2 linked regions of the Homo sapiens genome follow. The protein of the gene in region 1 purifies or fractionates together with the protein of each later gene. This does not show direct contact. Each region holds a gene or a part of one and is shown in the gene's direction. Other genes may lie near its edges.

Region 1 (3,522 bases):
TCCAGGTTTGTGGCACTGTTCCAAGAGGCCTTACACACACACACAAATATATAATTTTCTATACATATATATCCTCTAGCTTGAAACTTTTGCTCAAGTTTATTTATGTCACTGGCTGGCTGGATCCAAAGTCATGTGTCCACACATTCATAAATAAAAATTTTACCTATGCCTGTGCTACCATTTCTTTAAGCCCACATAAAGCTAATGCCTTCTTGGGTTGAATATGCAGTTGTTATGCTTAGTTTCAGGGATGGAATTCTATTCAGTTCCAAAATGTCCCTCATGTTCACAGATGATACTATTGGCAGTAGCTGCATATGCAAGTGTAACTTGGAAGCCTGATATAGTATACCCAACCCTTTCTGCAATGAGTTATTGTATCCCTTTGTTCTGCATTTGCATCTGGAACAAGACCTAATGTGGCTTCCTTAAATGGGCACTTCATTTCTGATGAGTGCACACCAATTATTGCTATTTTAATATCATTGAGAATACTACAGAAGCTAAGGCTATGTTTCTTTGGTAACTACTTCAAATTTCTCTAGAATTATGTAGCATACTTACATTTTGCTGCATGAACAATGAAAATTAACCTCTGCCTTTAAATGGAAAAATAACTTTCTGTAGATTGTTATACAGCTACTATGAAGAGCTCTTAATGAAGAGGAAGTGGCAGTGGTCTATATGTAGACTGAAAAAATATCATTAATAAAGTTCAAAGACTGATGGAATTTCATTGCCCTTAAAGATATGAACCAGATCTGTTTTATGCTTTTCTCCAATTATACTAACTAGCAGTTGAAAAGAATTTGTTTTGAAGAGTGTTATTTTCTTACCAAAAGACCAGATCAAAAATCCCTATACTTTTCCACCAAAAAAAGATTAAAATGAAGCCATTTCTATAAATTTAATGGCACTTTATATTTTATATAGAGAAATAGCTTCTGTTTGATTTTCTGGACACCATGTCAGTCAAGATCTACTTTCTGTGTAAAAATGAATAAGTCTTGCACATAATCCATTCGTGTTGCATAAGGTTGCAAAAACAATTAAGTGGGAAATGACTCCTAACTTATGTGTCTACTCTGCCTAGAAAGAAAGTTTTGAAGGCATCTATATATATTTCATAACAATGTCTGTTCTTTATGGATTTGATCCATAAATATTTATCTATCTGAAAACTTTGATACTTGGAATGTTTTCCTTAGAGCATTTGGTGCTCCAAGAAAAAACATTTGGTGCTAAGAGTTGCAGCACTGATGCCTTTCCCTAAGTTAATTCTATTTTAAAAATTTATATTTCCTTCCCAATGAGATGCAGAGTAAAATTTGAGACCCTCCATTGACTAGGGAGCAGCATCTGTCATCTATGGTTAATTACTATTTTGACAAAAATATAGAAGGTTTAAACCCCCATGTATTTCAGATTGTTAGAGAAAGAAGTAGTTTGCTTATATTTCCCTTGAACTTTATTCTAACCATTTAAATAATAAATTATTCAATATTTGTTATAATAAATCCTTACTAGATACAAGATTTGGGTGTTTCTGTGAAGTTAACTTTATTATCTAAATATCACTAACCATTGTTTACTGCTCAGAGGCAGATACATTTGTTTAGTTTAAAGTTGAAACAAATTCTATATTGTGGATAATTAGGTGTTTAAAACATTTTGATAGACCAGCTTATATATGTTATTTTTGAAATTTAAGAAGGCAGAATGTAATTAGGTCACATTTACAAGTAGAAGGAATTATAACTTCCTACTCCATGCATATATTGTATATTGGTTAGCTTTTACTAGCATTTTCTAGCATCACATTACTTTAGAAAGTTTTTGAGAGTTTCATTACTACTGGAAAAGTTTGGTGGGTATATGTACACAGGAAAGAAATATATGCATCATTTCAATATGAAAGGAAATACATAATCTAGAAACATAGAATAACTCTTGGTACATCTGTTACATAGTTAAGGAAAGAAACAGGCAGGTGAGGCTGGAGAATGTTGTCTATTTGTAGGAAATAAAGTCAGTGCAGACGCATATTCTAGTTTAGAGTTAGATTAATATTGTGCTTAGTGAATTTCTATGACATATTTCTGAGAACACTTTAATATATTTCCACACCTACTGGAATCTAATTCAGTCGATCGGATAAAAGAAAGACTTTTTTGTTGTTGTTTTTGAAAATCCATAATGTAGCAGGTTCTGCGCTGGTTTTTTAATGTATTTTATTTTTGTGCTCTCCTGCCAAAAGAAAAGGCTGATAAGTAAGTACACAGTACAACATGTAAATTTGTATAAAAATATGCTTGTTTAGATTGCTCTACAATAACTATATTAAGGTAAATTGTGTGTGTGTGTGTGAGAGAGAGAGAGAGAGAGAGAAACAGAGGGAGAATTGACTCAATGTGTTTTCTATGAAGAGTCTTAGCTTAGGAATCAGGTAACAGAGAGGTCCTAGACCATAGACCCAGCCATCAACTAGCTTGCTGATGTTGAACAGATCAACTCTCAACCATAGACTGAAGATGGAATGAAGATATCAAAAGTTCCTTTTAGCACTGACTAGATTTTTTTTCTTTTTTTTGAAACAGAGTCTCACTCTGTCACCCAGGCTGGAGTTCAATGGCATGGTCTGGGCTGACTGTAACCTCCTCTTCCTGGGTTCAAGTGATTCTCATCCCTCAGCCTCCTGAGTAGCTGGGATTACAGGCACATAACACCACACCCAGCTAACTCTTGTATTTTTGTAGAAATGGGGTTTCGCTATGTTGCTCAGACTGGTCTCAAACACCTGGCCTCAAGTGATCCTCCTGCCTCAGTCTCCCAAATGCTGTGATTACAGGCACAAGCTACTGCACCAGGCCTCTGACTACATTTCTATTAATATGGTTAGGTTGGAGGTTTTAGTATTTTTGTATCTCATATTTGTATCAATATGACTGGCTTCTTTGTCTGTAGTGTGTGGTAATATTAGTTCTGTAAACTGTCAGTTGCAAAAAAAAAAAATACCTTGAACTATAGTATATGTTGATAATTAGCCATAATAATTTCTTAGTTAATTTCTTATAATTAAATTTGTCAAAGAGGAAACTTACAGTTTATATCTGATGAAATCTCTAAAAAGATGGGTAAAACATTGGGAAATGTATGCATGTACTTCACTCTGGTTTCATAGGGTTAGCAAGTGTCTTAAAAACATATATAAAGAAGCACAGAGATTGTTAGGAGATATTTATGCTCCCAGTTTTAATAATTGGGATACTTTGTATACCACAGAAAGAAAAATTACTAAACTCCTCTTTTTTTAGTCAAAATTGGAAAAAAAGTCTTAATTGACAGTTACTATGCCTGTGCTACCCATAGCAAGTATTCAGTGGAAAATACTTTACTAAGTAAGTAATTTGAACACAGCTTAAAATCCATAGTATGTTACAATTGCTAGCCTTTCACAAAGTTTGCATTGTCTTAATGTAGAAGGATACTGTGATCTAAGAATTCACAATTTTAAAAAGT
Region 2 (3,522 bases), on another chromosome or scaffold:
GTGACCCACGATGTGGTTTTTCCAGCGCGCCAAGCTGAAACCCTGGCGGAGGAAGAAGCAGGTTTGGGGACCCGTGGTCATGATGAAGGTCGCGCTGGCTCTCGCACCTCCACATGGCTCTTTACAGTTTCCCAAACCTCGCTGCCCTTGGTCCTCACAGCCTCTTGTGAGGCAGGGCCTGTCTTTGAATGGACCATGAGGACCATGTCTCACCACATCATTGACTCGGGGGCAGGCAGGGCTGTGACGAGACTGCCTTTTCCCGTCTTCCCAGGCAGCACTCGTCGGAGGCACCACCATGATCATCGGCCACGTCCTGCCCGACAAGGAGACCTCCCTTGTGGACGCTTATGAGAAGTGCCGAGGTCTGGCCGACCCCAAGGTCTGCTGTGATTACGCCCTCCACGTGGGGATCACCTGGTGGGCACCCAAGGTAACAGTGCTGGTGGGATCCCAGAAGAAGGCACAAGTGGTCTTGTAGGCAGAGGGGCTGGTTGGGGTGCAGTGCCTCCTGCTTGTGTGGGGCACCCCTCCCACTACCATCCTAGCTCCCCACAATGCCAAAAGAAAACACACTTGGGATTCCATAAGGGGAGCGGATGGGCTTGTGCTGCTTAACTTAATGAGCCATTTTCCGGCAGGCACAGAGAGGCCAAGGCCAGAGCCCAGGCCTTGGGGATGCAGTTTCATTGCTCTGACCATGAGGCTCTTACCGTCTCGTGTGAATGTAGGGCACCACTGACAGGTCATGGGCAGTGCTGCTGAGAAGAGGCCTGAGCAGGGCTCAGGTGCAGAGGGTCATATCCCATATCCTATGTGTACTGAGAGTCCACCACACTGCGCTGAGGTCTCCGAACTGAGGCTCCCATCCTGCCTCAGTACTGTCTGGAATGAAAGGAATGTGGTATGCTTTTTTCCTACTGGGGGCCCAGCTTCTGCTCTGAGAAGCATCGAGGCTGTCCTGGTCTGTGACTGAGGCTGGCACCCCCTGAGCCTTTCTCAGTTCAGCCTCTGTGCCTCCTTTGTGTCTGTGCCCCTGGCCTCTGGCTTTCCTGTCCTCCCCCTGCCCAGGCCCCAGGGTCAGAGTCCAGACTCCTCTCCCCGGATTCCCACTTCCTTGCTCTTCCTAATCTACAGGCATTTCGATTTGGCTTTGTTTCTGGGGTTTTTCTGCTTTTTTGCCCAGGGTAGCAGTCTGGATATTCATTCTTTCATCAATTATTTATTAAGCCCCATGTACCAGTACTTTGGTGGGTGCCCCAGAATCATAAAAATAATAAGCATTATTAGTTTTACCAACTCAGGAACTGCCTCTTCATTTTCCGTCAAAAACCCACTTGTAACTGCTGCTAATCAGAGTGTATATTCAGGGCAGCTTGAATCTGTGCTCCCAGGTGGACATCCTCAAGCTTTGAGCTCGAATAAACTCTGTTCTTAATCATAAAAAGAAAAAAGAAGTTTTATGAAGTTCTTCAGTTGCAGGCCCTGGTATAAAGGGCCTAACACCCTTCTCAGATGATAACCTAAAGCCTCACTATATTTCTGCCCTCGGGTCTTAGCCTTGAGCTGGGGGCTCACCCGGTTTCTTCATTATTTCTGACCTGGCACTTATAGAAGACCTCCTCCCGGTTCTGGGCCAGAGGTGCAGATCACGCTGAATGTCAGCCATTCCTTATCTCAAATGGGGGTCTCCTTTTTGGACACTCTCCTGGGTGAGAGGCCTCTACCTCTGAGCCACTCTCTACTTCCCCTGGAGCTGGCCTAGAATAGAGGGTCTTCTCAGGTTCCCAGCAGCACAGAAGCCAGGCCAACCCTCCCTAATTTCCTGGAGCTTATGGTGACTTTCATGCATCAGGAATTTAAAATTCTGTTTTATAATAATCAAATAAATGTTTCTAATTATAGATGTGAAAAATAGAAAAGAAAGGAAGTACATAATCCAGTAACCCCCAGCACCATCCCTGCTGTTAAACTTCTTTCTTTCCCATCTTTTTTCATCCATGCTTTCACAGAGTAGCTATTTTGCATAGGTGTGAGCATTTTCTATTTTGCCATGAAGTTCATGAACCAGCAATATAATGGCCACTTAATATTCTACCAAGTGGATGAACCTGAACTTATTTTCCTGTTATCAGGCCAATGTTGCTTCCATGTTTTTCCTAGTACAAATAATGTTAGGAATATCCTAACTCTCATAACTTTGTTCATGTTTAGCTTTGTTCCTAAATTTGGTTTTCCCAGGACCTCTGGATTTTTAGCATTAGTATGCCTTCTTTGTAATGCCAGGCAACAGCCCACAGAAATTAAAATCATTATTCCTATGTTTACCATTAAGGCTGGTTTGGAGACAGACATAGGGGACAGGCCTAAGTGATAGGAGAAACGTGCCTATAAGGTAACAATGTGGCTCCTAAACTGTGTCGTGTTGACAATTTTCACAGTACTTCCGCATCCATCTACTCAGGTGGCCTCACAGCAGCCTGTGGGGTGGGAGGAAAGTGAGATAGAGAGGTGTGGGGGGTCAACCGACAGACTGAGCTGGGGCAGGCCCCACATCTCCCCCATGCTGGGCCGGTGCCTGCCAGTCGGCCTCTTGGGTGTCTGCCCTCACGCAGCATTGCCCTTCTACTTGTTCTCCAGGTGAAAGCAGAAATGGAGACACTGGTGAGGGAGAAGGGTGTCAACTCGTTCCAGATGTTCATGACCTACAAGGACCTGTACATGCTTCGAGACAGTGAGCTGTACCAAGTGTTGCACGCTTGCAAGGACATTGGGGCAATCGCCCGCGTCCATGCTGAAAATGGGGAGCTTGTGGCCGAGGCAAGTCTGCAGCCAAGAATATTGGATGGAGGGACACCAGTGGAGACAGTTAGTTCTCAGGGGATTCCTGACCACCCGTCACTGATCCCACAGGATTCAGACAAAATCAGTTGTTAAAGTGTGAGGTGTGGACACCCCAGCTGTCAGATCTTGGTCAGAAAATCCAAACTTTACTACTGTCTGTAAAAAACAAATCTCTTTTTATGGTTCAAAAAGGCTTCTAAGTCGTAGGTGATGATGTCTTAATTCTAATGATATGAGATTTAAATTCCATTATAGCAGAGAATTTGGAGCACCTCTCAGACATATTTTTAATGAGATTTGATATACAGAATAAATAAGAATCCGCTTCCCATTTGGCCTCTTCAGAGGATCTGAGACATTAAAGAGATCTATTCATGGCACCAGGAAGGATAAGCCTCTGGTGCATTCTCCTAGGTCTTGGGGTAAGGGCTAGCCTAGCAGTTGCTGGAAGCTAGAGCTTAGTCTCGATTTCCAGAGAGGGAATTCTGAGTTTGAAATCAGTAAAGAGTGCTTGTCTTTGGTGTCCCAGGCCTGTTGCTAGTTATAATACTTAACTGTATTTTTAAGAGAACAAGATATGTTCAGTCATTATGAAGTGAGAATCAGGAGAGCCCCACTGCATGGGCGGCCTGTGCATGCTCTGCCTTCTTTAGAAGACGAACACTGCAGAAGTGAGAA

The links. Proteins that work in one complex are often made in the same cells at the same time.
Region 2: the proteins of ANTXR2 (region 1) and DPYSL5 purify together in Homo sapiens (affinity purification with mass spectrometry; one large-scale study listed by BioGRID and IntAct). This does not show direct contact.

Annotation. Positions count from the first base shown.
Region 1 is NC_000004.12:79,902,220-79,905,741, reverse strand, and holds part of ANTXR2 (anthrax toxin receptor 2 isoform 1 precursor), read left to right. Parts: 3' UTR 1-3,522.
Region 2 is NC_000002.12:26,924,613-26,928,134, forward strand, and holds part of DPYSL5 (dihydropyrimidinase-related protein 5), read left to right. Parts: intron 1-274; coding exon 275-433; intron 434-2,640; coding exon 2,641-2,820; intron 2,821-3,522. UniProt on the Homo sapiens protein: Involved in the negative regulation of dendrite outgrowth.